4 linked regions of the Homo sapiens genome follow. The protein of the gene in region 3 purifies or fractionates together with the protein of the main gene of each other region. This does not show direct contact. Each region holds a gene or a part of one and is shown on either strand. Other genes may lie near its edges. The genes, in order: MELK, SDK2, IL13RA2 and PHLDB3.

Region 1 (7,474 bases), on a different chromosome or scaffold from region 3:
ACAGAAGAAAAAAGAGAGCAGGAGAATGGAAATGGAGGAACACTGGACTATAAATCTGAATGCACATGTTTACATTCCATGCAAAGGACTGGGCTATTTCAAATTGTCACTCAGAAAGAGAAAGCAATTTGTAAGATGCTGGAATTCACTTCCCAGATTAGGGATTTAAGAGTGTCATAATTAACTTAATAGACTTCTCCCAAAAGAGTTATAAACATCCCAGTCATGGCCTCTGGAAAACTAGCAGAGATGGGCAAGTTGTTTATTTAACAACTAAGGTAAGACTGAAGCCATGCACTTTTTTTTTTCTTTCTTTCTTCCATTTTCTCTATCTACCCGCTTCTCTCAAATTACATCATGTCTTTGGATGAGTAATACCAATGTGGGCCTAGATTATAGCTACTGAATCAAGGGAATATCGTTGTTGCTGCAATGTGAGAAAACTGGTGCTTACATTACAAACTCCTACACTAATAGCAGATTATACTTGATTTGTAAATCTTTGTGAATGTGGAGCTGGTTCTAAATATTCTCATGTGCCCTGTTTATCCTCTAGAGTTTGTTAATATAGAATACAGAAAAGCCTTGAGAACAGAGTAACCCAACTTTGTAGCTGCTGAAGGAGGTATATTATCAGTCAACGCGGAAGACAGCCTCTCAACTGTGAATAATGAAGAAGGAAATTAGACCCCAATCAGACACCTGAGTGCCCTTCTGGGCTTGACTAAATAAATAGAAGAATTGGGGGTATATATAATTGGGTTTTGTTTTTGTTTTTGTTTTTGAGACGGAGTCTTGCTCTCTTGCCCAGGCTGGAGTGCAGTGGCGTAATCTCGGCTCACTGCAACCTCCGCCCTCTGAGTTCAAGCAATTCTGCCTCAGCCTCCCAAGTAGCTGGGATTACAGGTGTGCGCCACCACGCCCGGCTAATTTTTTGTATTTTTAGTAAAGATGGGGTTTCACCATCTTGGCCAGGCTGGTCTTGAACTCCTGACCTCACAATCCATCTGCCTCGGCCTCCCAAAGTGCTGGGATTACAGGCGTGAGCCACCGCGCCCGGCCTATAATTGGGGTCTTTAACTTCTCAGAAGAGCAAGGAATTGGGATAATGAGAAGACGTTTATGGTTAAATTTTAAAGGATAGCAACAAATTGGGGGCATTTTTTAACAATATTATTTGGGCTATTCTATTACTTGCCGCATAAATACATTTACCTTATCTACAGAGCTTGGAAAGACACTGATGCTGAGGATAATTTCAAACAGGAAGTAGAATACAGAATGGTTTTTTGGGTTTTGTCTGTTTATTTGCTTGAGACAGGGTCTCGTTCTGTCACCTAGGCTGGAGTGCAGTAGCTAGATCTCGGCTCACCGCAACCTCCGCCTCCTGGGTTCCAGAGATGCTCGTGCCTCAGCCTCCCCAGTTGCTGGGATTACAGGCATGCGCCACCATGCCCGGTTAATTTTTTTTTTTTTTTTTTTTTTTGTATTTTTAGTAGAGACGGGGTTTCGCCATGTTGGCCAGGCTGGTCTAGAACTCCTGGCCTCAAGTGATCCGCCCACCTCGGCCTCCCCAAGTGCTGGGATTACAAGCGTGAGCCACCACGCCGGGCTCAGAATGGTTTATAATGTGGCCTGTAACACATTTAATTAGCATCCTGCCCTGCTCCCTTGCAAAGGCTTCTGGGAGCACCAACAATGAGGCACTCATTGGGATTGATCTGCCCATCTAGTTGGTCCACAGTAGTTACACAGAAAGGACAGACCCTTGGGAGAAACAAGCCCACGAAGGCCCAGTAAGGGCTTTTCTGATTTTTCTGATTTTCTAGCCAGACTCCATGGGAAACAGAAACCAAAATTTAAACCAAAGTTAGGAACACTGGCCTCTAAACAACAATCCAGGCTCCTGATACTCACCTCATTCCACTAACAAAGGAGAAATACCAAAGGTAATTACCCGTCCTAAGTGCTAGGGACCTGATTCCTCTCTTGGGCAGCCTTCCCTGAGTCTACCCTTTCCAGCTCCCACAACCCTACACCAGGTTTCTTGGTGGGAGCAATCCTGCTGCTCCTATTACTGATACAGCATTCGGTGAAAATTCCCCTTTTAGGCCGGGCGTGGTGGCTCACGCCTGTAATCCCAGCACTCTGGGAGGCCAAGGCGGGCGGATCACCTGAGGACACGAGCTGGAGACCAGCCTGGCCAACGTGGTGAAACCCCGTCTCTACTAAAAATACAAAAAATGAGCCGGGCGTGGTGGCGGATGTCTGTAAGCTCAGCTACTCGGGAGGCTGAGGCAGAAGAATCGCTTGAACTTGGGAGGCGGAGGTTGCGGTGAGCCGAGATCGCGCCATTGCACTCCAGCCTGGGCAACAAGAGCGAAACTCCGTCTTGAAGAAAAAGAAAAAAAATTCCCCTTTTAGTGTGAGCCTCTGAAGCCACTACTCTGGGGAGATGATAGGAGAGGATGGATTTGGACTCTGAAAAGGTAGTGATAACACATCTCCTTTTTTATTGCACTGCCCCAGTAAACTGAGTTGTACAAACAGAAAAAACTCGAAACCCTTCTGTCAACTTTTTTCGCGGGGAAGAGTCACGGAAACTGGAAACGGGAAATGGGAATTCACGTCTATCGCAGCCTCCTAGGTGGCAAACGCTTAGCCTGAACACCTCTTCAATAACCCTGTTAAGTAGACACGGTCATTATCCCCACTTACGGAGAAGAAAACCGCGGGTCGGAAAGGTCAAATATCTTATCCAGGGAACAGGGCTGGTAAAGCGCGGGGCTCCGATGAAATCCTCCAGTCTCCCGAGAGCCAGGAGCAAACTGGGTTTGGGCCGCTGCGCCCCGCACAGCCCAGACCCCAGCCATCAACTGCGACTGCGGCGGGCAGGCGGGAGAACTGACCTGAGGGGCGGAGGGCACGGCTGAGCGGCGCCCGACAGAAGGACAGGGGCCTGCTGTCCTGAGAGACGCGGCTGGTACGGCGTTCCTAAGAATCTTTTCGATCGCCGGGTTGTGGCCGCTTCCGCCCGCCAAGGGAATCAAATCTCCCGGGCCGGAAGGGGCGGGGACGCGGCGGGGGCGCGCGCGGCGCCGGATCCCAGGGAAGCGGACGCGCACGGCAGGCGGGGGCGCGCACAGTGCCGGGGGGTTCTCACCGGGGCAACGGCTCGCGGTCGCTGTGGAGCCGTGAAAGGGATGGCCGGGAGGTCCACTGGGCTGCGAGGGGTGACTTGAGGCCTTGGTCTTGCCCCGGAGGGCACGTGATGATTTTCCAGGTGGCGTGGATATGCCAAGTCTCCACAGAACCCAACTTTCTTACGTTCTCTTCCTAAAATTGACGTGCCCTCTGGCAGTCACAGTTCTCATTTTCGTCCTCCCTTGCCCACTGGCCGTTCTCCCACCCAGCAAAGACAGGAATACCTCCCCCTCTCCAAAATGTGTTGCCACGAGGAATAAGAACCCCAGTAGCTGAGACTACAGGCACGCGCCACCACGCCTGGCTAAATTATTTGTGGGTAGAGACGGGATCTCGCTATGTTGGCCAGGCTGGTCTCGAACTCCTGGGCTCAAGCGATCCTCCCGCCTCAGCCTCCCAAAGTGCTGGGATTACAGGCGTGAGCCACTGTATCCGGCCCAGAAAATCTTTAGACAAATTAAACTTTACAGAGTTGAATTGACCAAAGAATGAGTCCAAAATCCAGTAATCCCTGGAACCAAAATAGGTTCAGAGTGATTCGGGCTGCCATATGTTCAAATAACATTTATGGACAGAAAAAGGAAAATGACTTACAGAAATTGCAGTCAAGTATGGAAACAGCTGGATTGGTTGCAACTCAACCTCTGACTATTTTGAGCACTGTTTAAACAGTTGGCCACCTGTGATTGGCCAAAACTCCGCTGCTGTGATTGACTGAGACTCGCTACTTGTTACAAGGTTACAGTCTCTTTACACATTTACAATTGTAGTTGTCTACAATTCACTATGTATGGAGAAACTGTTAGGCCAGGTGCAAAGGCTCACATCTATAATCCCAGCACTTTGGTGGGGGGGCGGGGGCAGATCATTTGGGGTCAGGAGTTCGAGACCAGCCTGACCAACATGATGAAACCCTGTCTCTACTAAAAATACAAAAAATTAGCCGGGCTTGGTGGCGCGAGCCTATAATCCCAGCTACTCAGGAGGTAGAGGCAGGAGAATCTCTTGATTCTCTCTGCTGGGAGGCAGAGGTTGCAGTGAGTAGAGATCGTGCCACTGCACTCCAGGCTGGGCAACAGAGCAAGACTCCGTCTCAAAAAAAGAGAAAGAGAGAAAGAGAGAGAGAAAAGAAAGAAAGGAAGAGAAGGGGAAGGGAAGGGGAAGGGAGGGGAAGGGAGGGGAAGGGAAGGGAAGGGAAAGGAAAGGAAGGGAGAGAAAGGGAGAGAGAGAAAGAAATAAATTGTTAGTCTGAACTTAAAATGCATAAGGAGGCAGCTTTATGCTAAACTTAATTTAACATGGTCATCTGAATCTTCAGCAAATCATAATCTTTTTGCTGGTGGAGGGTCTTGCCTCCATGCTGCTGATTGATCAGGGTGGTGGTTGCTAAACGTTGGGATGGCTGTGGCAATTTCCTAAAATAAAACAACAATGCTGCATCGATGGACACTTCCTTTCATGAAAGATTTCTCTGTAGCATGTGATGCTGTGTGATACCATTTCATCCACAGCAGGACTTCCTTCAAAGTTAGTTCTCTGAAATCTTGCCACTGCCTTATCAACAAAGTTTATGGAATATTCTAAATCTTTTGTTGTTATTTCAGCAATGATCACAGCATCTTCACCAAGAGGAGCTTCCATCTCAAGAAAGCACTCTCTCTTTGCTCATCCGTAAGAAGAAACTCCCCATCTATTCAAGTTGGATCATGAGATTGCAGCAGTTCAGTCACATATTCAGGCTTCACTTCCAATTCTAGTTCTCTTGCTGTTTCCACCAAATCTGCAGTTACTTCCACGAGTGAAGTCTTGAACCCCTCAAAGTCATCCATGAGGGTTGGAATTAATTTCTTCCCAACTCCTGTTAATGTTGATATGGTGACCTCTTCCCATTAATCATAAATGTTCTTTTTTTTTTTTTTGGAGATGGAGTCTCACTCTGTCACCCAGGCTGGAGTGCAGTGGCGTGGTCTCGGCTCACTGCAAGCTCCGCCTCCTGGGTTCACGCCATTCTCCTGCCTCAGCCTCCTGAGTAGCTGGGACTACAGGCGCCCACCACCATGCCCGGCTAATTTTTTTGTATTTTTAGTAGAGATGGGGTTTCACCATGTTAGCCAGGATGGTCTTGATCTCCTGACCTCATGATCCGCCTGCCTTGGCCTCCCAAAGTGCTGGGATTACAGGCGTGAGCCACCGTGCCCGGCCATAAATGTTCTTAATGACATCTAGAAGAGTTAATTCTTTCCAGAAGGCTTCCATTTTACTTTGCCCAGATCCAGCATAAAATCACTATCTATGGCATCTGTAACCTCACAAAATGTATTTTGTAAATAAAATGACTTGACAGTCAAAATCATTCCTTGATCTATGGCCTACAGAATGGATGTTATGTTAGCAGACATCCAAACAACATTCATTTCCTTGTACATCTCCATCAGAGCTCGTGGGTGACTAGGGGCATTATCAATGAGCATTAATATTTTGAAAGGAATCTTTTTTTCTTAGAAGTAGGTCTCAAAAGTGGGCTTAAGGTATGCAGTAAACCTTAGCCAGCTGTGGCGGCATATGCTGGTAATACCAGCTCTTCAGGAGACTGAGGCAGGAGGATCACTGGAGCCCAAGAGTTCGAGGTTACTGTAAGCTATAATTACGTCACCGCATTCCAGCATGGGTGGCAGAGTGAGACCCTGCCTCAAAAAAACAAACAAACAAACAAAAAAGATATTCAGTAAACCCTAGTATAAACAGTTATACTGTCATCTAGGCTTTGTTGTTCCATTTATAGAGCATAGGCAGAGTAGATTCAGCATAATTCATAAGGGCTCCGGGATTTTCAGACTGGCAAATGCACACTGGCTTCAACTCCAAGTCACCAGCTGCGTTAGCTCCTAACAAGAGAGTCAACCTGTCCTTTGAAGATTTGAAGCTAGGCATTGACTTCTTCTCTTTAGCTAAGAAAGTTCTAGATGGCTCCTCTTCCAACCTAGAACTATTTCCTCTACATTGAAAATTTGTTATTCAGTGGAGCCACCTGCATCAATGATCTTAGCCAAATCTTCTGTATAACTTGCTGCAGCTTCTACATCCGCACTTGCTGCTTCACTGCGCACGTTTATATTACAGAGACAACTTTTTTTCTTTTTTTGAGACGGAGTTTCGCTCTTGTTGCCCAGGCTGGAGTGCAATGGCGCCATCTCGGCTCGCCGCAAACTCGCCGCAAACTCGCCCTCCCAGGTTCAAGTGATTCTCCTGCCTCAGCCTCCCAAGTAGCTGGGATTACAGGCATGCACCACCACGCCCAGCTAATTTTGTATTTTTAGTAGAGACGATGTTTCTCCATGTTGGTTGGGCTGGTCTCAAACTCCTGACCTCAGTTGATCTGCCCGCCTCGGCCTCCCAAAGTGCTGGGAGTACAGGCGTGAGCCACTGCACCCAGCCTACAGCTTCTTACCTTAAATCTCATGAACCGACCTCTGCTAGCTTCCAAATTTTCTTCTGCAGTTTCCTCACCTCTCCTAGCCTTCACAGAATTGAGGAGAATTGTGGCCTTGCTTTGGATTAGGCTTTGGCTCAAGGAATTTTGTGTCTGGTTTGATCTTCTATCCAGACTACTATCTATCAGCAGTAAGGCTGTTTCGCATTCTTATCACTCATGTGTTCAGTGGAGTAGCACTTTTAATTTTCTTCAAGAACTTTTCCTTTGCATTCACAATTTGGCTAATTATTTGGCACAAGAGGCCTCCCTTTCAGCCTATCAGCTTTGGACATGCCTTCCTCACTAAGCTTAATCATTTCTAGATTTTTATTTCAAGTGACAGATGTGTGACTCTTCCTTTCACTTGAACACTTAGAGGCCATTGTAGGGTTATTAATTGGCTTAATTTCAACATTGTTGTGTCTCAGGGAATAGGAACGCCTGAGGAGAGGGAAAGAGACGGGGAACAATCAGCCAGTGAAGCAGTCAGAACACACACAATATTTATCAATTAAGTTTGCAGTCTAATTACGGGTATAGTTCATGGTACCCTAAAACAGTTACAAGAAGAGCATCAAGATCTCTGGTCCGCTGTGCAGGCTCACGCCTGTAATCCCAGCACTTTGGGAGACAGAGGTGGGCGGATCACGAGGTTAGGCGTCAAGACCAGCCTGACCAACACGGTGAAACCCCATCTCTACTAAAAATACAAAATTAGCCAGGCATGGTGGCGCATGCCTGTAATCCTAGCTACTTGGGAAGCTGAGGCAGGAGAATCACTTGAACCCAGGAGGCAGA
Region 2 (6,584 bases), on a different chromosome or scaffold from region 3:
TAGCTCTGTAGAAATTAAAATAAAAATGGACAAGGAGCTTGCCTTAAAATATCAGAGAGGCAGCATTATGTTTTGAGAGCCAGAAGGCTTTAGTACAAATCCTGGCTCCACCACTCCCCGAGGGCAAGCCACTTAAAGTCTCCCTGTCCCAGGTTTCCTCCTTGGGACTGTCGCAAAGATTCCATGAGTTAATAAACGTAAAGTGATTAGAACTGTGCCTGGCACAGAGTGAATGCCATAGACATATTAGCTATTGCTATTATTATTATTCACTATAATTTGCACATTGCATCAAGTAGGTTCTTATTCTAAAAGTTTAAAATAAATAAAATAGTGCATTTCACTGGAAGGCACTCACTTATGCATTAAGAGAGCAGATAAGTCAGACCCTTGACTCTTCTCTGCAAAAGCACAGCATGGCTAAAAATTGCTGTCTGGGGAATGAACTGCTTGGGTATGATACTGGGACAGGTGACCCCATTCATGTAACAGGAAGGAAAAGAATGTTGCTTCAAATCTCCAAAAAAAAAAGTTTATTTATAAAATACTGACAGTTTGACAGGACACGGGACTTCTTGTGGTATATATTTCAAATCAATTTCTTTCTTACCTTTCATTTAAAAAATAAACCTGCTAACACGCTATATGACATAGAGATATATATTTTTTTCTTACAGACAGACACCTGCCATAATGAATACTCTCCCCATAATTTTTTGTTATATCTTTTAAATCAAAAAATAAAGATTTGTGTTGATTTTTGTTTCTGGAGTCTAGATGGATGGAGAAAGGTAACACGTTTAAATGCTTTTGGTTATTCTGATGGAAACAAAGAGAAGGGGGGTGGTCCCGAGGGGGCACCTGTGCTCAGGTGGTGGTCAGGATTGCCATGTGCGCATGCCCATGGGTGTCCCTGGATAGGGCCATACAGAGGCACTGGGGAGCGGGTGGCGGCTGCTCAGATGGTCTCCCCTTTACCTTCCTGCCCACCAGCCCCTCACCCAGGGTAGGCACCTTCAGATGTGCACTCTGGGAAGCTGAGGGAAGCCCCTGCCCAGCCAGAGTGGCACTGTGGTGAGGCTCTGGCACCTTTAGAAGCACTGCCCAGGGAGGCGTGGGCAGCAACAGAAGGCCTTGAGGCAGCGTGCACCAGGTGGGGGCAGCCCCCGCTGTGTCCTTGTTTCCTCTAAATCACGGCAGTGCCAGGTTTGGGGGTAGGAGTTTTGGGGGCCGGGGGGTGAGGGATGGACAGAAGGGGAGGCAGCCTGGGTTTGCAAACTCTCTGGAGCCCTAGGAGGATGGTGGTTCTGGAGCCCAGAGCATCTTTTTGGTTTGTCTTGGCAGTGTGGGTGTGGAGCTGACGTCAACTCTGGAGGCGCAGCCAGGAAGGGGAAAGCCCTGGTGTGCCCAGCATGGGCTCCTGGGTGCAACACTGGGAGATTGCTTAGGGCACAAGGAGGCAATGCCAAAGGTGCCAGGTGTGTCCTGGTGTGAACCTGCTTTGGGTGGAGTCCCACAGGCAGGGGCCCTGGCATCACTGGCACGGAAAATCACAGGCCAGAAAGGGTCCCACTCTTTCTACAAAGGGCAGGGCCCACCACCCCTTTCTAATGTGGCCAGGTTTCTGGGAGGACGGTTGGGAGCCTCGGCTGTGCCAGTAGATATGTAAACAAGGGCAAAGAGACGTGTCCTGAAAAAATCTAGAGTTCCACAGCTGCAGGCCTGGGCTTCCAGCTGTGGCTGGGGCTGTGGAGACAATATTCCAGATGAGTGGGTATTGACTAAGTGTGGGACTTTCACCATGGGCCCAGCCTGATCTCATGGGCTTGTCTAAATTTGCGTGGTGTCCTCACCCTCTCAGACAATAGATCCCAGCCACGCCCCAAGTGCAAGCAACCCAGGCCACCTGTGCCTCACAGGGGAGAGATGGCTTCAGCCATCAGAGGGAGTTCAGGAGTCTCTTTGCTAACACACATACAGATGTGTGTTCTGTGCATATTTGTGTGTGCATGTGTGTAAGCACAGGCGTGCATGGGCACCATCCCGCATGTACACGTAGGTGTCAGCATGGGTGCGAATGAGCGTGTGGGGAGTGGGGGGGTGGAATATCTTAGTGCACCAGGTGATTCATTAAAGGCAAAGGAAAATTGACCTCATGTGCAATATATACACAGACACAATGTTTTTACTCACTCCTGCTTCCTCCCAAATAATCCCTCACTGGGCTGGGCTTAAATAATTCCCTAATGCAAACTGGGAACTTCCTTAAATGGTTAAATGCTCAGCAGAGAGGGAAAGGGATGAAGTTATTTAAAAAAAAAAAAAAAAAAAAGATGAGAGGAAAGAAAAGAAAGCTGTGCGGCACGATCACAGGCCGGCAGCTGCAGATGTGCTGCCATGGAGATGCCAGATGCTGCAGAGGGTGGGGGCGGAGGTGGCAGGGGTGGAGCAGGTGTCCAGCTGACTCCACTGCAGCCCCCAGACAAGTCCAAGGAGGCCCCGAGAGCACCTTACTTCCTGGAGGGGCAGAACCTCAGCCCTTGGTTCTCCTTTGGGGAAGATTGTGCTTCCCTTCCCAGGCCTCCTTATTGGAGAAACCGCTTTTTGGACACTGGAGCTGGGCTGGCCTGTCTGCTGAGCCATCTTCCAGCATCTCCCCGTTCACATTTCCCAGGGGTCAAGTGCTTCAGGAAAAACTCATGGCTGGGTGTGCCCGTTCTTTGGGCCCCAGACCCTGACTTCCCTTCCCGGTCACCATTAGCACAGTGACTGACTTGGGGCTGTAGGAGAGTGGTCCAGGCTCTCTCTTACCTTGGCATGTTTCCCAAATCTCCTACTTGGGCTTCCTTGAACTCTGCTCACCCACCCCAACAGAGCATCATCTCTTGGGCAGGGCCAGCAGCGCCTGTACACAGTGCACAGAGGGAGCCCTGCTCCACGAAGGGGCTCACGCTGAATCAGACAGGCCCCTGTGGGCCATCTGCCACCCATCTCAGCGGTGGGGCAGGTGTTGGGCTGGCCTTACAGGGCTGGCTGAGGGCACAGAGGGCCTTGGACAATGTATGGAGTTAGATAGAAAGGCTTCTCCCTAAACCCTGGCATCCGTAAGTACCAAGTGGACGGGAAGATCCTGGCCACTGGATGTGGCTTTTTGCAGAACACTCCTTGGAGCAGATTGTGTATGTGTATGTGTGTGTGTGTGTGTGTGTGTGTGTGTAAAAGCATTCCCTCCCATCAGCTATTCTTGTCACTTGGTCCCATCTGACCTGCCCCTGCTGGGCGTGCAATTCAAATGCTGGGTCCACTTTGGACTGAGCTTCCTGACCTGCCCCTTCCCCTCCCCGCCCTGGCCAGGCGGAGCCCAGCCTGGAAGCTGTTACTGGGGGTTAGGGTGTCTTTGCCTTTTTGCCTGTAAACTGGGTGCTAGGCTGACTGAGCAAACTCTGGGTATTCCAGCCTCTGGACCAGGGACTTGGGCCACCCCTCTGGGCTCCTGTGCCTCTGTGCTTAGGAGGCTGCCGGGTGGCAGTGAGAGGGACACAGATCTGAAAGTGAGTGTGCTGTCTGGCTAGGAGGGCCCAGATGAGTTTGTTCTGGAGAGGATCCCTAGACCCTGTTCCTTGTAAGTGCATGGGAGATGTGTGTGTGTGTGTGTGTGTGGTGAGGATCTATCCAGTGGAGAGTGACGTGTCTGCCCAGAGGGAGATCCCTCAGCTGTGCCCCACTCCCCAGCCTTGGGAAGCTGACTACCCCTTTAAAGAGAGGACGGATGGAACCTGGATTGGAAGAAAGAGAACAGTCAAAGTGTCATTCTTATCTTGCCCACAATGCGTTAAACCTAATCATCCCACAGTGCCAAGGCCAGTCGCCTTATTTACACCTCTGCTCCCCAGACTTCACCTTTCCTTGTCCATGCTCAGGAAAGTCAATTCCAGCACAGGGAGGCAGGGGTCAGTTGTGGGGGGTTTCTCCCCTACCCTTGGGCTCTCTTCCTTGGATTCAATATTTTAAAAAATATGCAGGAACAAGGAAGGCGCTAAGCAAATTCTCACCCTTTAGTTTTTTGTTTTTTGTTTTTCTTCCTTTTTCTAAATAAACCAAATGCTTGGTGGAGAAGTTGAGCAGGGGAGATGGGCAGTAGAGGTTGCCAAGACAGGGCAGGGGGTCTGGATGAGGCTGTCCGATGCCTGCCAGCCACAGTGATGGTGCATGGAGGGAAGGAGGAGCAGAGAGAGAAGATAGGCGTGGCCTCCGGGATGCCCATTCTTTTTGCAGAGAGCAGCGGCAGTGGGTCCAGGGGTCCTGGAGGGGCTGGAAGGGGGCAGCTGGCTGGACATCCAGAAGCTTTTTCTTCCCTCGGCCACGCCTGCCTGGCGGCCTCCAGTCCTTAGCCTCCGCTCCCTCTCTCTCTCCAGATGCCCGCCCCACTCCGTGTCCATAGCAGTGACACAGCCACTTCCCCAGCTCCGTGTAATTCCCAAGGGAGCAGTGAACCCCACCATCTCAAAGCTGAAGAGCTGCTGGCCACACACATCCTCTCACGGTTTTCTCCCTCCTTCTGAACGCCGGCTTTGCTGGCCCTGGAATCTCTGGAAAAATAAACTCAGGAGGTGAAAAGTTGACTTGGTTTCTTGGTGTTTTTGTTTTCTGGCAGGCAGTGAGAGGAGGGGTGAAGGAGGAGTTTGGTGCCATTTCTCTTTCTGCTTTTTCCTCTTCTGATGTCAAACAAATGATGAAAATCCTGCTATGGGAGCCCGGGAGCCTGGGGCCAGGCTGCTGGGGGGACGGTAGAGGGTGCTCTGCTGACTTGGGGGGTTAGGGGGGTTCTGGGGCGTTGGAGTCCGACTGGCCTTGGGCCGAAAGAGGCTGCCCTGCTGGGTGCTGGTGCTGTTGGTGACGGTGGTGTGGTCTGGCTCACCCGAGTCGCTCTCCGTGTAGCTGTAGGCCTGTGCCCTCGAGATGCCCTTCTGCTGTCGCCGCCACGAGTTGTAGTATGTGGGGTCACTGATGTAGTGGTTGACAAAGGAGTGGGCCTTCTGGTGGTTTGAGTCGACCTCGTACTCGCTGTCACTTCCCTGGGAGGACAGAGAATCAGGGTGTGTCAGTGGCCCCGTAGGGACAGGCCATTGTGGTTGGGGCCGGAAGGCACAGGGCATTCTGGTTCAAAACTCTGCTCTGCCTCTTTCAAGACTTGGACTGTGGGCCTCCCAGCCCCCTCACTGCCAAGGGGGTCTGGTGCCCGTTTGTGCCCGCCTGCTGCTTCCTTCACAGCAGATCCGGAACCGGAAGGATCTACTATGGGGTTGGCCCAGAGCTGGGAGATACCTGATAGAATCAGAAGACCTGAGTTTTTTTTTGTTTTTGTTTTTGTTTTTTTTTTTTGAGACAGAATCTCGCTGTTGCCAGGCTGGAGTACATTGGCATGATCTTGGCTCACTCCAACCTCTGACTCCCTGGTTCAAGCAATTCTCCTGCCTCAGCCTCCTGAGTAGCTGGGATGACAGACATGTGCCACCACGCCTGGCTAATTTTTTTGGTATGTTTAGGGGTTTCACCATGTTAGCTAGGCTGGTCTTGAACTCCTGACCTCAAGTGATCCACCCGCTTCACCCTCCCAAAGTACTGGGATTACAGGTGTCAGCCACTATCCCTGGCAAATTTTATTTTCTTTCCTTTTTATTCTTTTTTTTGGGGGGCGGGGAGTGGAAGGGGCACAGGGAATCACTGTGTTGCCCAGGCTGGAGCACAGTGGTGTGATCCTCTCTGTAGCCTCAACCTCCTAAGCTCAAGCTATCCTCCCATGTCAGCCTTCTGAGTAGCCAGGACTATGGGTGCATGCCACCACGCCCCACTAACTTAAAAAAATTTTTCTCTTGTGATGAGCTCTCCTTATGTTGCCCAGGCTGGTCTAGAACTCCTGGACTTAAGTGATCCTCCTGCCTTGGTCTCCTAAAGTGCTGGGATTACAGGCGTGAGCTACTTTACCTTACCTTTGTTTTCTTTTCTTTCTTTCTTTTTTTTTTGATACGCAGTTTCACTCTTGTTGCCCAGGCTGGATGCAATGGTGCAATCTGGGCTCACTGCAACCTCCACCTACCCGGTTCAAGTGATTCTCCTGCCTCAGCTTCTGGAGTAGTTGAAATTACAGGCACCTGCCACCATGCCTGGCTAATTTTTTGTATTTTTAGTAGAGATGGGGTTTCACCATGTTGGCCAGGTTGGTCTTGAACTCCTGACCTCAGGTGATCCACCCGCCTTGGCCTCTCAAAGTGCTGGGATTCAGGCGTGGGCCACCGTGCCCAGTCTACCTTTGTTTTCAATTGAAGTGAGGTTCACATAACCGAAAGTGAACCATTCTAAAGTCTATGACTCAGTGCATTAGGACCGTCGCAGTGTTGTGCAACCACCACTTCTATCCAGCCCTGAATCATTTCCATCACCCCAAAGTAAAACCTTGTACCCAGGAAGCAGTCACTCCCTATCTCTGCCCCTACCGGTCACTCCCTATATCCATGCCCCTGGCAACCACTAATCTGTTTTCTGTCTCCAGGGATTAACTTATTTGGGACTTTCCTATAAATGGG
Region 3 (7,844 bases):
GTCAAGCTTAGAAACCTCCATGGTATAGTGAGCTATATTAATAAGACTAATAAATCATTAATACCCTGGAGAGTTCCCAATATCTAAGACAATCCTAGAGACTATTTGATACAATGCCACAGATACATTTCCAGCAGAGCTCACCTCTGTATGTCATATCATTTTATGAGATCATTTGAATCTTAACATCTAATTCCAAATAAAAACAAAAACTTTTGGAAGGGAAAAAAAACTTTATGGCAGAAACTTGAGCTATATCTGCTTGGAATCAAATAGATAATTTTCATATACCATAGGCACATTACTTGGCAAATCATGCCACATTTCAAAATATAATATGAAACCTTCAAGAAATACATAAACTAAAACCCTGGAAGTAACCAGAAAAATACAGACAAATCATGAGCTTCTGGAGGACAAAAATCATTTATTATTTATTCATATATTCCTGATACCTAGTAGAGTGCCCAGCACAAAGTTGATCAATAAATGCTCAATTTGAATTGTCTCTTGAAACTACCTAGCTGAATTAGAGAGGTAACAGAATGTCATCTACAACAGAAATCTTTGAATATACATGCTTGTTGAGTATATAAGTAGTTAATAATTCAAAACATTTTCATTGAGCTCTTACTACAATATATACAACGAACCATAATCCTGCGACCCTCTGTGGGAAGGGTACAAAGATAAATAAGCCTTGTCTCCTACAGTAGAAAAGGTCACAGGTCAGTAGCATGTATAAGGCCCACATCCAAGAATATAAGCAATTGTAAAATACAGTGAAATGCTCTTCTAGTGAAGTGCTGCTCTTCAAGTTCATATTGCACGAGACCGAGTTTTTTGTTTTTGTTTTTGTTTTTTTTCTTGTTCTTCCAATGGCAATCTTAACACTGGATGGGGTGAAAACAGATATAGCAGGATGCATAGGAGACAGAAGCGGGTGTGGAAGCTTTTTATATCCTAATTAGAACTATTGAGATATGGGAATTGGAGCGGACACTAAAGTCAGGAATCACAAAGTAACACCTGATGATCACTCTGATACGGCAAATGCATGCTTTACTTACCTTCCATGTTTCACTACCAATGTTTCGGTATTTTAGTTCATATTCCACTGTGCATTCCTTAAAATGATCCAGAGACAGTGGGGGTTGCCATTGCAAATAGAGATAACCTAAGTATCCGGGATCCACTATCTCAAAATCCTGAGGAGGGTTAACTGAAATAAATCAATAAAACACTTTTATTTTTTCTGTATTTTATGACAAATATTGCTAAATCTAGATGGCTTCCAAATGTGCACCAATTGATTAACAGATAAACAAAATGTGCTACATGCATACAATCAAATATTATTCAGCCATAAAAAGACATGAAGTACTGATTCATGCTACAACATGGATGAACCTTGAGAACATTATACTAACTGAAAGAAGCCAGACACAAAAGACCACATATTGACATAGTTCCATTTCTATGAAATTTCAAAATAGACAAATTCATAGAGAGAGAAAGTAGATTCGTGGTTGGTAGGGGCTGGAGGGAGAAACAATGCAGGGTGACTGCTTAATGGGTTTAGGGGCTGTTTTACGGGTGATGCAACTATTCTGGACTTTGATAGTGGTGATTGTTGCACAACTTTGTGAATATACTAAAAACCAACGTATAGTAAAGAGTTTTACTATACATGTATAGTTTTAAAGAATATAGTTTTGTATAAAGAGTTAGTTTTGTGTAAATTATATCTCAGTAAGGCTGTTAAAAAAATCTAGATTACTGCTATATAGTTGTTCCTTCTTTGAGAAATCACATATGCAAAATGTGACTTTGCCTCACTAGGTATTAATTTTTAGAGAAGCAAAAAATTCAATGTGGCTTTATCTCTGTGCTCATGTACGCCAGAATTTGGTCTAAGATGGGAACATTTTATTACAAAAATCTGTCTAACAATAACAATAACAAATAAGAACAACAAATAATAACAAATAATAACTAACATATCACTATAATATAAATATATGTATTTAATTATATTAATTATAATATAATATATAATATAATAATATACTATAAATAATTTTAATTAATTAATAATAAAACATTAACATTATATTAAATAATATAATATAATTGAAAAATTAAATAATTCTAATTATTTTTAAATTTTACGTTAAATTTCTGTACCTTTTTAATGTATCTAATTGTCATAAAAGCTAAGGATAGTAGCTAAGGATAGTAATTAAGGAACTGTTCCAGTTAGTTTAGTACCAGGCAATGAGGTTTCAGATACTTAATCTGTTAAAAAAGACTATACAAAAAGGTATGGAGAGTGTTTTTAATTTGGCATTTATCGCACAAAATGTGTGTCAACATCAGTTACCTTATACAAGAAAGTGACTAGTAAGAACATAGCTTTTTTTCATGAACTTCCTGAAATAGTTTCAATAACAATTCATCTACTAGTTAGTTATGCACTTCCATAAGGCAGGTCAAAAAGACAGTTAATTTTCCATTAAAATCCATTTAATTTTACTTTTCCTAATTTAAAAACTATTCCATTAAAATCCATTTACCTTTTATCTCGGTGTCTGAAGATGAAGTACAGCCAAATGTTGTGCTTATCAGAAAGGTATATAAGCATCCGATAGCCAAGCAAACGAAAGCCATTTCTCCGAGATTTAAAACCTTGATATTGCCTCTCTATGAAGGAAAAATATAACATTTTAACTTTATCTTACATCAAATAATCAAACTAAACGTGATTAAAAATACTTTGGAAAGCTCTCTGTGTGCTTCTCTACCAAGAACTGGGAAAACTGTGTCCACCTCAGACCATGGAAACAGAAATAATCAAGTTAGGAACCAATATAATTGGAAAGAAAGGATTCTAGTCTCATCCTGCTTACAAGAATAAAAACAAAGCTAAGCAAAAACCCTTGTAGCTCCTCACCTCCCCGCCGACAGGCACACTTCTGACCAGGTTATGGCGACTTCAAATAGCCTTCATCCGGAAGACCGTTAGACTCACGAGAGTGTTCTTACTGGTTCACAATGGAGTTATGATATCATCCATCTCCATAGCAACCGTCTCCCCTAGCAACACATAAAACACAGTCAAATACTCTTTTCTGAGGGGAAAAAAAGAAAAAAGAAAAAGAAAAAAGTATTTGAAAGTTATTTCGGCCGGGCATGGTGGCTCATGCCTGTAATCCCAGCACTTTCGGAGGCTGAGGCGGGTGGATCACCTGAAGTCAGGAGTTTGAGACAGCCTGGCCAACATGGTGAAATCCTTTCTCTACTAAAAATGCACAATTAGCCAGGCATGGTGGCGGGCGCCTGTAATCCCAGCTATTCGGAAGGCCGAGGCAGGAGAATGGCTTGAACCCGGGAGGCGGAGATTGCAGTGAGCCAAGATCCCACCATTGCACTCCAGCCTGGGCAATAGAGCGAGACTGTCTCTAAATAAATAAATAAAATAAAATAAAATAAAATAGAAAGTTATTTGACCACTGAGAAAGCTCAGAACCTAAACCGAAGCCTCAGAGAGTTCAAAACTTTGCTCTGTTTCCTCATAAATATTTCTTTTTTTAGTTTAAAAAAAGTGTTTATTTAGCTCTTTCGCCCCCTGCTGGACGATTGACTTTCTTCTTTGCTCCTTTTTTCTTTTAATTACTTCTTTTAATTAAAATTTTTTATTTCCATCTACTCTCATTATTGTTCCACTTTTTCCTGTGTTTCCTTTATTAGTAAATGGCATCGCCATCCTTCCAGTTGCCCAAACCAGAAACCTGGGAGTCTTCCTCAACTCCTCTCCCATCTAATCTCTCCATTACCACTACCACTTCCTAAATGGAGGATCTTAGCAGGGATCTCCTTATTCAGTCTTTCCTGCCTCTGATCCATTTTCCACACCATATACAGCAAGAGTGACCTTTCTAAAGGGCAAATCTGAACTTTTCATCTCTTTCTTAAACTAAAACAGCATTTCATTGCCATAGAATACAATTTAGTCATCTTTCTGTTCTTGGATATTGGTTCTTGACGGATATGATCAAAATTTAAAGGATTCATGCCTTCAAATAGCTACTCAATTAAAAATACTTTGCTTTTCAGGAAAAACTACTACTCCCAATTCCATACACTTCTCTTCGAATCTATATTCTGGAACCAACAATTTCACATAAAGTAAAGGATTAAAAGTCACTCAAAAGAAAAGAAGGGACTGCCCTTCTTTTCTTGTGCATAGATTAATTCAATAGGACAGACCCTCTCTTCCACCCCACCCTCTTCCCCCTACCTGATCCATCTGTAATATTGTAACTTTGGTAAGCCTCAATGGCTACTTTATAGAATCTTAGGATCAAATTTTTAGAACCAGTATGTATATTACAGACAAGGCTAGTCAAATTCTCTTTTATAAATTGGGCAGTAAAACTCAGACTTGCCCCACCCAAGATTACACAGCAAATTAGTAACAAAGCTGGAAGTAGAACAGAGATCTCATGATGCCCAGTCCTGTGCACTTCCACCCCATTCTGCTGGGTCCCACAGGCATGACTCAGGATTATGAACGCTTTTCCTCTGGAACCCCAGTGTTTAAATCTTCCTTTAATTAGCAAACCAAGCTGAATCAACACCATGTTATTTTAAAAATTCTGCGCCTCATAAAATCAGGAGAGAATGTCATTTCTCTCACTGAGGCCCAACAAATCTCTCTTTCTCCCCAATTCCTCTCTCTTTACTTGCCAGCCAATGGCTGCCCACTAATGCATCTGTAAGTACTAGGTAGATTTGGCTAACAGAAGGTTATGGATCTTCCACAGAGCTACCCTCAGAGATTAAGATGAACACACTGGTTACTACTGGGATCAGGGCAATAGGTCTGACAAAGAGAAAACCTTCCATATTACCTTTAAGGACTAAGGGCAATCAGGCTGCCCTTACAATGCTCTCAGAGAGATTCTAACAAAATTCTCTCTCCCCTATCGATCTGTCCTTTAAGATTTCGTAGCATTATGTCATGTACAGCATAAATGCTAAGTAAAGAGTTTAAAATCATTTGCTTCTATTCCATTTATAGGCTATGAAATCTGACTCAGGCTATCAAATAGCATTTCATGGATCAGACTGATCAATATACCCAAGCAAAGGTGGAAAATGGGATAACTAGCTTCTAGCATCACTTATGGATAAACCCACAAAAGGAGTTGCTGAATTACACCTAGGGCCCAACCAAGACTTTCTTACCCAAATGAACACAAAGACAATTCTCTCCTTTGCTTCTGGGTTACAGGATTGTCACTAGTGCAATGAGGGGCTTTATACACTATGTGGTTACCAGGAACACCGGAGTTTTTCACAAGGACCAGGGGGACCTGAAGACAAAGGGAAGATTAGAAAAGCAAATGCAGACATATTAGATTTGAAAAAGTTGTTTTTCTATATTTCAGACCCCCAGACCACAGTTCATAACCACTCATCTGGTCTTAGCTCCTCATTTTTAAAAATAAGGAAATAACAGCCAGAGAGGAAGGTAAGTAAGCCAAGTGTACACAACTTATTGGTGGCAGAGCTGGGATTGAAAACCATATCTCCTGAACCCTTTCCACTAACTAGCAAATAAATGTTCTTATCATAATGAATCTATCCTGCACCTATTTTACTAGAAGCCTCTTCCTAACTCCCAACCTTCCTCTACCTACTGTCACCACCCAAACCATCCAGCCCACCACACAGTTTTATCATTATGACATTTCTGACAGAGTAATAATTCAATAAATATTTATTGAGCATCTTTGGAAGTTTTTTGCCAGATACTATCCCAGCTAAATCTTGCAGAAGACACAAAGTGAAAGTGGCAACAGTCATAGTATCTGTCATAGTAATAGTACCTTCTAGTATTTATTCAACATCTCAGGCACTGCCCTGTGCTATGCAATTTATATGCATTATCTCATATAATCCTCACAATCAGACTTGGACATATATACTATTTTTAGTTCTATGTTATTTGTTTAAATTTTCTTTTTAACTTTAATTTTTAATTGATACATAATGATTGTACATATTTGTGGGGTACAGTGTAATGTTTTGATACATGGATAACGTTGTGTAATGATCAAATCACGGTAATTAGCATATACATCACCTCAAACATTTATCAGTTCTTTGTGGTAAAAACATTCAAATTCCTTTCTTCTAGCTTTTGAAAAATACAATTCATTATTGTTAGCTATACTCACCTTACTGTGCAATAGAAATCAGAATGTATTCCTCTTATCTAACTGTAACATTGTACCCATTCACCAACCTTTCCCCATCCCGGCTCCCTTATTCCCTCCCCAGCCTCTGGTAACTTCTATTCTACTCTCTACTCTATGAGATTAACTTTTTAAAGACCAGAAACTATGACATACAGAAGTCAAATGGCTTCCCTCAAGTCACACACCATAAATGGTGAAACTTGGATTTAAATCTAGACAATCTAGTACCAGAGCCCTTGATGGTAATCACTACACTAGGTATTTTCCATGCCTAAGATCAATGTGGAGGGGAGCTTTCTATTTCTACCCACTCAGTTTTACACAACACTTTTGAGATAGTTTCTCACTGAGAATCTCCTTTGGAATGGCAAACCTAAAGTGATTGCCTCTTCTCGGCCTCGCTTCTCCACCGCTTCAAAGTCATGCAACATAATACTCTCACTTTAACAGCTGGCTGCAATCTTTGCATTATTGGAGAAATTCCAGGTACTTACCAATCATATGGTTTCTCAAGAAATAGATTAACGTAAGCAGTTATCACAGGTCCTCTTTTGTTCTCCTCTCTACTTTAGAGACATTAATTAGAATCTCTAATACTTTCCTGCCTAATAATCAAGCACGTAGAAAATATTAGTTAGGTATTCCTGAAACAGTCACAGGGCCAGGACACAGATTCTACAAGCCACAAGATGGGGAAGTTATGGGTGAGGCCAAAAGCCATCTAAAGCAAATTTGGAATTATACCAAGGTGCTGTAAAAGCTGGCAGGACCAACTATTCTTTGGATAAAGTAACAGATACATAGCCGAGGAGCTTTTTATAATAAAAGACACAACGGTGTAAGTATCAATCTGGATTTCACTCCTGCCTCAACCACTGTGATAAGAGGTAAATTATATCTCAATTTGTATCTATAAAATGGAGGTAATGATACAAGCCTGGCAGGGGTGTCTTGAAGATTAAATAAGATAATGTATGTGAAAGTGCTAGAAGAATAGTAAATTGCTCTATATACTTGAGAGGGGTTTGCTTCTGAGGACACTGCCACTAAGCAACACTTGAAAATAACTTACCACATCCTACACATTTGCCTTTATTAATTCAGCAAAATAAACTTGTTCATAGTAGATAATTAGACACTTATTATTAATTTCCAATTTCTACCACCCTTGTTGATCCAATATGCTGCCTTTACTGATCTTTGCCATAATAACAGTAATTTCTTTCGTTTGTTTAGCTTTTTGTAGTTTGTAAAGAATTTGTTTATTTTTTAACAGGTCTGTAAGTGTATAAGGTTTGTACTGCATGTTTACAAACAGTAAAACTGGGGCTTAGAGAAGTGATATGACTAGCACAGTGCCCCACAGCTGATACAATCTATACAGAAAGGATAGGAAAAAGAAGGAAGAGACAGAAAAACATTGCTAGGCTAATAATACATAACATGGTCTTTTAGAAATGTTCTTTCTCTATGTTGACAAAGGAAAAAAAGATTCTTCTACAGTATCCAAAATGACCATATGTTTTTTGTTTTATTTTATTGTAAAGGCAGTGACCAATTTGCAAAGACAATTATTTA
Region 4 (7,133 bases), on a different chromosome or scaffold from region 3:
TCCTTCCCCAGGCTGTGCCAAGACCTTGTACCACTCGGTCCATGAAAAGATCTTCACACTTCCAGGAGACTGTCTGATCTACCCTGCTCACGATTACCATGGTGAGGGCTTCCTGGAAGAGGTGTGGGGCGTACATAACTTTGAAAGTGGAGTGTAAATCTCTGTAATCCTTGTAGGGCATGAAGACGACCAGTCTCAGAAATTTCTCTGGCCAAAAAAAATTAAGTGTTTGAGGCTGGGCAAGGGGGCTCACACTTGTAATCCTAGCACTTTGGGAGGCCAAGGCAGGAGGCTCATTTGAGCCCAGGAGTGAGTTCGAGACCAGCTGGAGTAACATGGCAAAACCCTGCCTCTACAAAATACAAGAAATTAGCCAGGCATGGTGGCATGCTGCCAGCTACTTGGGAGGCTGTGGTAGAAGGATTGCTTGAGCCTGGGAGGTTGAGGCTGCAGTGAGCTATGATTGTACCACTATATTCCAGCCTGGGTGACACAGCAAGCCCCTGTCTCAAAAAAAAAAAAAAAAAAAGAGATAAAGTGCTTGAGCCTGCTGTGTGTGGATGTAGAAACTATGTGACTGCCAGATGCCTAGAATTCTGCAGGGCATGGGTTTTCCTGGGCCTTACTTGTGGAGCTTAGGGAACTGGGGGAAAACTAAATTTCCCATAGTGTCCATGGAGGAGGGAAAGCAATTTTAGGAATATTCTGGGAAGAGCCCCTGCCAGAGAGGCACCCAAGGCCTCCTGGGGAATGTAGTTCTGAGAGGCCTGAGGCACTAGACTCCTTGACTTTCCTTCCCCTCCCTTGGCCCCTAGGGTTCACAGTGTCCACCGTGGAGGAGGAGAGGACTCTGAACCCTCGGCTCACCCTCAGCTGTGAGGAGTTTGTCAAAATCATGGGCAACCTGAACTTGCCTAAACCTCAGCAGATAGGTGAGCAGCTGGGGACCTGGACTTCTGGGTCTGAGAGAGGAGGGGCTGGGGTCTTGGACTCCTGGGTCTGAGAGAGGAGGGGCTGGGGGCCTGGACTCCTGGGTCTGAGGGAGGAGGGGCTGGGGGCCTGGACTCCTGGGTCTGAGGGAGGAGAGGCTGGGGGCCTGGACTCCTGGGTCTAAGGGAGGAGGGGCTGGGGGACTGGACTCCTGGGTCTGAGGCAGTAGGGGCTGGGGGCCTGGACTCCTGGCTCTGAGGGAGTAGGGGCTGGGCTGGGGGCCTGGGCTCCTGAGTCTGAGGGAGGAGGGGCTGGGGGCCTGGGGTCCTGGGTCTGAGGGAGGAGGAGCTGGGGGCCTGGACTCCTGGGTCTGAAGGAGGAGGGGCTGGGCTGGGGGCCTGGGCTCCTGGGTCTGAGGGAGGAAGAACTGGGGGCCTGGACTCCTGGGTCTGAGGGAGGAGGAACTGGGGGCCTGGACTCCTGGATCTGAGGGAGGAGGGACTGGGGACCTGGGCTCCTGGGTCTGAGGGAGGAGGGACTGGGGGAGGAGGAGCTGGGGGCCTGGACTCCTGGGTCTGAGGGAGGAGGGACTGGGGACCTGGGCTCCTGGGTCTGAGGGAGGAGGGGCTGGGGGCCTGGACTCCTGGGTCTGAGGGAGGAGGGGCTGGGGGTCTGAACTCCTGAGTCTGAGGGAGGAGGGGCTGGGGGACTGGACTCCTGGGTCTGAGGGAGGAGGGGCTGGGGGACTGGACTCCTGGGTCTGAGGAAGGAAGGGCTGGGGGACTGGACTCCTGGGTCTGAGGGAGGAGGGGCTGGGGGTCTGGGCTCCTGGGTCTGAGGGAAGAGGGGCTGGGGGTCTGGACTCCTGGGTCTGAGGGAGGAGGGGCTGGGGTACTGGACTCCTGGGTCTGAGGGAAGGAGTGGGCTCAGGACCAAAACTCTAGTTTCCTGAAGAGGAAAGGTTCCTAGGATTTCTGGGTCTCCAGTGGGGCCTGGAACTCTACCTAGGCCCCTTAGTTTTAACCTTGATTTCTTCCTTTCAGACTTTGCTGTTCCAGCCAACATGCGCTGTGGGGTGCAGACACCCACTGCCTGATCTCACTTCTGTCAGATGCTCCCATCCACTATTAATGCACTAGGTGGGAGGAGAGGGCGGCAATGACACTGCACCTCTCCTTTCCCACCGCATTCCCTGGAGCTCCCTAAATAAAACTTTTTTTAACGTGAGTCTGACTTCTACCTATTTTCTGGGGGAACCAATTGGGTTTCTGGGCCGAAAGGGGTGGGGTTCTGGTCCTATGGAGAGGCCAGGGAGCCTGCAAGATTTGTTTTCTTTTTCTTTTCTTTTTTTTTTTGAGATGGAGTCTCCCTCCATTGCCCAGGCTGGAGTGCAGTGGCACGATCTCGGCTCACTGCAACCTCTGCCTCCCGGGTTCAAGCGATTCTCCTGCATCAGCTTCCCAAGTAGCTGGGACTACAGGCGCGTGCCACCATGCCCGGCTAATTTTTTCATATTTTTAGTAGAGACAGGGTTTGACCATGTTAGCCAATATGATCTTGATCTCCTGACCTCGTGATCCACCAGCCTCGGCCTCCCAAAGTGCTGGGATTACAGGTGTGAGCCACCGCGCCCAGCCCGGGAGCCCACAAGATTTCTAACTCACAAGATCAAAAACAAACACAGCTATCTGGGGCAGGTCTTCTCATCACCTTGGATTAGAACACCGGCTTGCTTTTGAGCCACTTCCCACTTAGCCCTGGGGTAAGTTACTTCACTTCTCTAGGCCTCAGTTTTCTTATCTCTAAAATGGAAGGAATAATAATGGGGTGTTGTGATGCTCTGATGAGTCAATGTGTGTGAGTGCCTGGCACATGGCCTATCAGTGTTCACCATTAAAGTTACTATCATTTAGAATGATCTTTTGGGTACTTCCTGGCTTGTAGTGACAGTATACGCAATGGTTAAGAACATGGACTTTTGAGAGAATGAAGCCTGCATTTTACCACTTACAACATGTGTAGATGTTGGCTACATTTTTTTTTTTTTTTCTGAGATGGGGTCTTACTCTGTCGCCCAGGCTGGAGTGCAGTGGCACATTCAAGACTCACTGCAGCCTCGACCTCCTGGGCTCGAGATATCCTCCTGCCTCAGCCTCTGGAGTAGCTGAGATGACAGGTGTGTGCCACCACGCCTGGCATAATTTTTGTATTTTTAGTAGAGATGGGGTTTCTCCATGTTGCCCAGGCTGGCCTTGAACTCCTGATCTCAAGCAATCCACCTGCCTCGGCTTCCCAAAGTGCTGGGATTACAGGCCTGAGCCTCTGTGCCCAGCCAACCTTGGGTGCATTTGTCCTCCTCAGCTTGTATCCCCAAGTGTAAAATGGAGATAGTAGGCCAGGAGCGGTGGCTCACGCCTGTAATCTCAACACTTTGGGAGGCTGAGGCAGGCAGGTTGTTTGAGCCCAGGAGTTCAAGATCAGCCTGGGCAACCTGGAGAAACCCAGTCTCTACTAAAAAAAAAGAAATGGAGGTAGTAATCACTTTCTCGCTGGACAGCTTTGAGGGTGAAATTAAATGACTGGGTATAAAGTGTTTCACACAGCTCTTGACTTCTAATCATCCCTTTTCATATACCAGTTATTTTCCTGTTTTCATTTTCCTGTTTTCGCCCAGAGAGGAAAGGGTCTGGCTGAGACCTTTAACCTCTGCCCTCCACCCCATAGCAAAGTTGTGGGGGGGTGGCGGTACACTTCCCTCAGTCTCTGGGCAGGTGTCTGACTCAGTTCAGGGCACCCCTTCCCCTTGTCCAGCTCCCCAAACCGGTCAGGGCCCTTCTGAAGGGCTCATTAGAGGGGAGACGTCCCCATCTCCATTCCTGCCTTCCTTTCTGAACTCCCAAGGTCTGGACATTAGAGAGGCTCCCATACAGAGGTGGCCAAGACTCCTCCAGGGGGGCAGGAATGAGGGGCTCGAGGGAGACTGGGAGGTCGCGATGCTGAGTTCCACGAGGGTGGGGCCGGGCCGGGGCCGGTGGGGCCGGGATGGCCGGATGCCGAGGCCACGGGTGGGGCAAGCCCGTGGCTCCCTCCTCCCTCGGGAGCTGTTGGACCTGTTGTCCCCCCTCCACTTCCGGGCTGCTGGGGAGGGGGACCGGGCGGCCTCTCTCCTCCCTCTTCCCCTGCCACCTGTCTCATAGGCAGAAGCGGCCGTGCCCAGCGCGCAGAGCGGAGCGCGCCGAAGCCTGAGCTCGTGAGGGGGCCGAGGCTGTGGGGAGGTGGCAGTTGGACTTCGGAATCTCAAGGACTCCGACTCCTGGCTTGTTCAGAGAAGGAGAGCCCCGACTCCTGGATCCCTGGGTGAGGCGGCGTGGGCACGGTTGCCCTGCACAGTGGGGTCGGGACTAAGACTACGGGGCTCCGGGAAGGATGGGGCGGGAGCCGAACTGCTGAGTCTCGGAGGGAGAAGATGGGTCGCTCTAAGCGAATCCAAGAGATTGTAGGGGGCTGCTGGGAGGGTACAAGGCCTGACACCTAGAGATGAGGGAGGGGAGGCGGGGTCGAAGAGGTCAGTAGGGGGCGTGCTACGACCCGGACTCAAATTCCGGTCCCGTCTCCGGTGGCGTGTCGCCTTGGAGCCATCAAGCCCCGCCTCTGGAAACTTCAGGACACGCCTCCGTAACGCTCAGTTCCATCCTTTGAACTCTTAGGCCCCGCCTCCTTGGGGGGGGGTCTCCGCGCCCCGGAGCAGACGCGAGCGGCGCTCAGCCGTCCTAGGCCCCGCCCCCGGAGCTTCTGGTCCCGCCCACCCCGCAGGAGTCCCAGCGGCCATGGGGACGCGAAGCAGCCCCGAGGAGGGGACCCCGCCGCCGCTGGTCCCGGAATGCGACGTGGAGGTCCAGCCCCAGGGCCATCCCGAGGAGTCCCGGGAACAGGAGGCATCCGAAGTCCTGGCGGAACCTTCGAGCCGCGGGGGAGCTGAGCAGCAGGCAGAGGAAGAAGAAGTGGGAGAAGGCAGCAGCACTGAGAGCAGCCGCGACGCGGTGAGGGGCCCGAGGGCGACAGCGCGGGGGGCTTGGACCGACGGGGACCCAAACAGGTGGCCAGACAGGTAGACAGGTAGAGGGAAACCAGAAAGACAGAGACCCGGAGACAGGGAGAGAGACCGAGTGATAGCAGAGACTACTGAGAGAGAGATACACCAGGACACGGAGCCAGAGAGGCAGAGGCACAGACAGACAGAAACCAGATACAGAGACAGAAACCAGATAGAGCCACGGGGAGGCCCCAAGAACGGAGATAGACCCAAACGGGCGACAGAGACAGAGAGACTAGTATAGAGGAACCAGATAGGTGGCTCACGCCTGTAATCCCAGCACTTGGGGAGGCCGAGGGGAGGATTGCTTAAGCCCAGGAGTTCGAGACAAGTCTGGGCAACATAGCAAATCCCTGTCTCTAGAGAAAAAAAAAATACAAAAATTGTCCAAGCGCAGTGCCGCGTGCCTGTAATCCCAGCTACTCGGGAGGCTGAGGCAGGAGGATCGCTTGAGCCCAGGAGTTGTAGGCTGCGGTGAACTATGACTGCGCCACTGCACCCCAGCCTGGGACAAAGCAGAACCTATCTCTAAAAATGAGAGAGAGAGAGAGAGAGAGAGAGAGAGAGAGAGACCAGATAGACAGACAGGAGAGACTACAGAACAGAGAGAACCAAACGAGTAAGAGATGCAGAGAGATCAAGAAGCCAGACAGAGACCCAGAGACATGGAGACTGAGAGACAAAGACCCCAAAAAGACAGAGACACAGTGAGACTAGAGTCAGAGAGAGGGGAATCGAGACAGAGGGAAACCCAGAAATAAATGGCAGAGATGCTCAGAGAAACAAATAGACAAAAACCTCGAGAGAGGGACATACTCCGAGGAAGAAAGATCTAGTGATTCTAGTGGACAGATCTAGTGGACAGATACCGAATCTGAGAGACTGGGGTCAGGTGGAGAGACAGAGACAGATCCAGGCACTACAAGAAAGTGACGCCAAGAGAATAGGACCTGATAGAGAAAAAGAAACACCTTTCATAAGTCGGCTTTACACCTGCTCACCCTCCATACGGTACTGCAAGCCTCTGTGGTCCGTGTGGTTGGGTGGTCACGGGACTTGCACCCTCCCCCACTCCGACCTTAAATACAGGGGTCTGAGGCCGGGCGCGGTGGCTTATGCCTGTAATCGTAGCACTTTGGGAGGCCGAGGTGGGAGAATCCCTTGAGCCTAGGAGTTTGAGACCAGCCTGGGCAACATAGCATCGCCCCCTCTCTGCCAAAAAAAAAAAAAAAAAAAAAGAGCTTGGCGTGGCGGTGCGCGCCTGTAGTCACAGCTACCTAGGAGGATGAGGCAGAAGAATCGCTTGAGCGAGGGAGGTCGATGCTGCAGTGAGCCGTAATCGCGCCACTGCACTCCAGCCAGTGAGACCCTATCTCAGGACAAAAAAAAAAAAAAGATAAGAAAGAAAAAGAAAAGAGCCTGCGACAGATTATGGGAGTGGTGGTTGTGTTAGGTAAGTGGACTGATGGACTGAGACCCGCAGAGGGTGATGTTGGGTGGGGACCAGACCTACTTAGTGATTGCAGGGGGCGAGGCATCTCCACTTAACCACGCCCCCCTCAACTTCAGCCCGAGGCTACGCCTCCGATAGCTATGGCGGCCACACCTCCCGCATCCACCTCTTCGCGGGAAGGGGTGCGAGGGGCGGCGCGGCGCCTGCAAGGACAGCAGCTGGAGGCATTGACTCGTGTGGCCCTGATGGAGCAGCGAGTGAAGGAGCTACAGCGCCAGAGGAAGGAGCTGAGGATCGAGGTGAGGCTGCGGACCCCTTGGGAAGCCTGGCCCCAACTCAAGCGGAACCCGCAAAGCCGGACTCCCAGCTTTTTCCTCGGGTGGGATCAGATTTTAGGCCCTCCGCTCTTCCTCCCTCCAAATTCAGGTCCCTGGAGTCCATCCTCCCTTCGAATCCGGTAGTTCAGGCCCTGGGCCTCTTCCTTGGACCTAGGCGTCCGAGCCCCCAGCCCTGGCATTCTCTCCGCAGATGGAGGTGGAGGTGGCCTTGCTGCGGGGTGAGCTGGCTGGGGAGCGAGTGGCCGCTCGCCGGGAGGAGGAGCAGCTGCGGGAGCTGCTGGAGCAGCAGGCGGCCTCGGAGCAGCGCGGCCGCCAGCAG

Evidence for each region.
Region 1: the proteins of IL13RA2 (region 3) and MELK purify together in Homo sapiens (affinity purification with mass spectrometry; 2 studies listed by BioGRID and IntAct, with this or other methods). This does not show direct contact.
Region 2: the proteins of IL13RA2 (region 3) and SDK2 purify together in Homo sapiens (affinity purification with mass spectrometry; 2 studies listed by BioGRID and IntAct, with this or other methods). This does not show direct contact.
Region 4: the proteins of IL13RA2 (region 3) and PHLDB3 purify together in Homo sapiens (affinity purification with mass spectrometry; 2 studies listed by BioGRID and IntAct, with this or other methods). This does not show direct contact.

The regions. Positions count from the first base shown.
Region 1 is NC_000009.12:36,568,443-36,575,916, reverse strand, and holds the start of MELK (maternal embryonic leucine zipper kinase), read right to left. Parts: upstream 3,023-7,474; 5' UTR 2,910-3,022; exon of another isoform or gene 2,719-2,909; intron 1-2,718. UniProt on the Homo sapiens protein: Serine/threonine-protein kinase involved in various processes such as cell cycle regulation, self-renewal of stem cells, apoptosis and splicing regulation. Has a broad substrate specificity; phosphorylates BCL2L14, CDC25B, MAP3K5/ASK1 and ZNF622.
Region 2 is NC_000017.11:73,333,866-73,340,449, forward strand, and holds the end of SDK2 (protein sidekick-2 precursor), read right to left. Parts: intron 5,076-6,584; coding exon 4,722-5,075; 3' UTR 4,590-4,721; coding exon of another isoform or gene 4,504-4,589; 3' UTR 519-4,503; downstream 1-518.
Region 3 is NC_000023.11:115,014,600-115,022,443, forward strand, and holds the start of IL13RA2 (interleukin-13 receptor subunit alpha-2 precursor), read right to left. Parts: upstream 3,018-7,844; 5' UTR 2,954-3,017; intron 2,704-2,953; 5' UTR 2,671-2,703; coding exon 2,577-2,670; intron 1,223-2,576; coding exon 1,071-1,222; intron 1-1,070. UniProt on the Homo sapiens protein: Cell surface receptor that plays a role in the regulation of IL-13-mediated responses. Functions as a decoy receptor that inhibits IL-13- and IL-4-mediated signal transduction via the JAK-STAT pathway and thereby modulates immune responses and inflammation.
Region 4 is NC_000019.10:43,501,743-43,508,875, reverse strand, and holds the start of PHLDB3 (pleckstrin homology-like domain family B member 3), read left to right. Parts: upstream 1-4,129; 5' UTR 4,130-4,287; intron 4,288-4,727; exon of another isoform or gene 4,728-4,743; 5' UTR 4,744-4,757; coding exon 4,758-4,970; intron 4,971-6,592; coding exon 6,593-6,775; intron 6,776-7,004; coding exon 7,005-7,133. Other genes in the region: ETHE1 (persulfide dioxygenase ETHE1, mitochondrial), read left to right, coding at 12-101, 816-932, 1,974-2,026.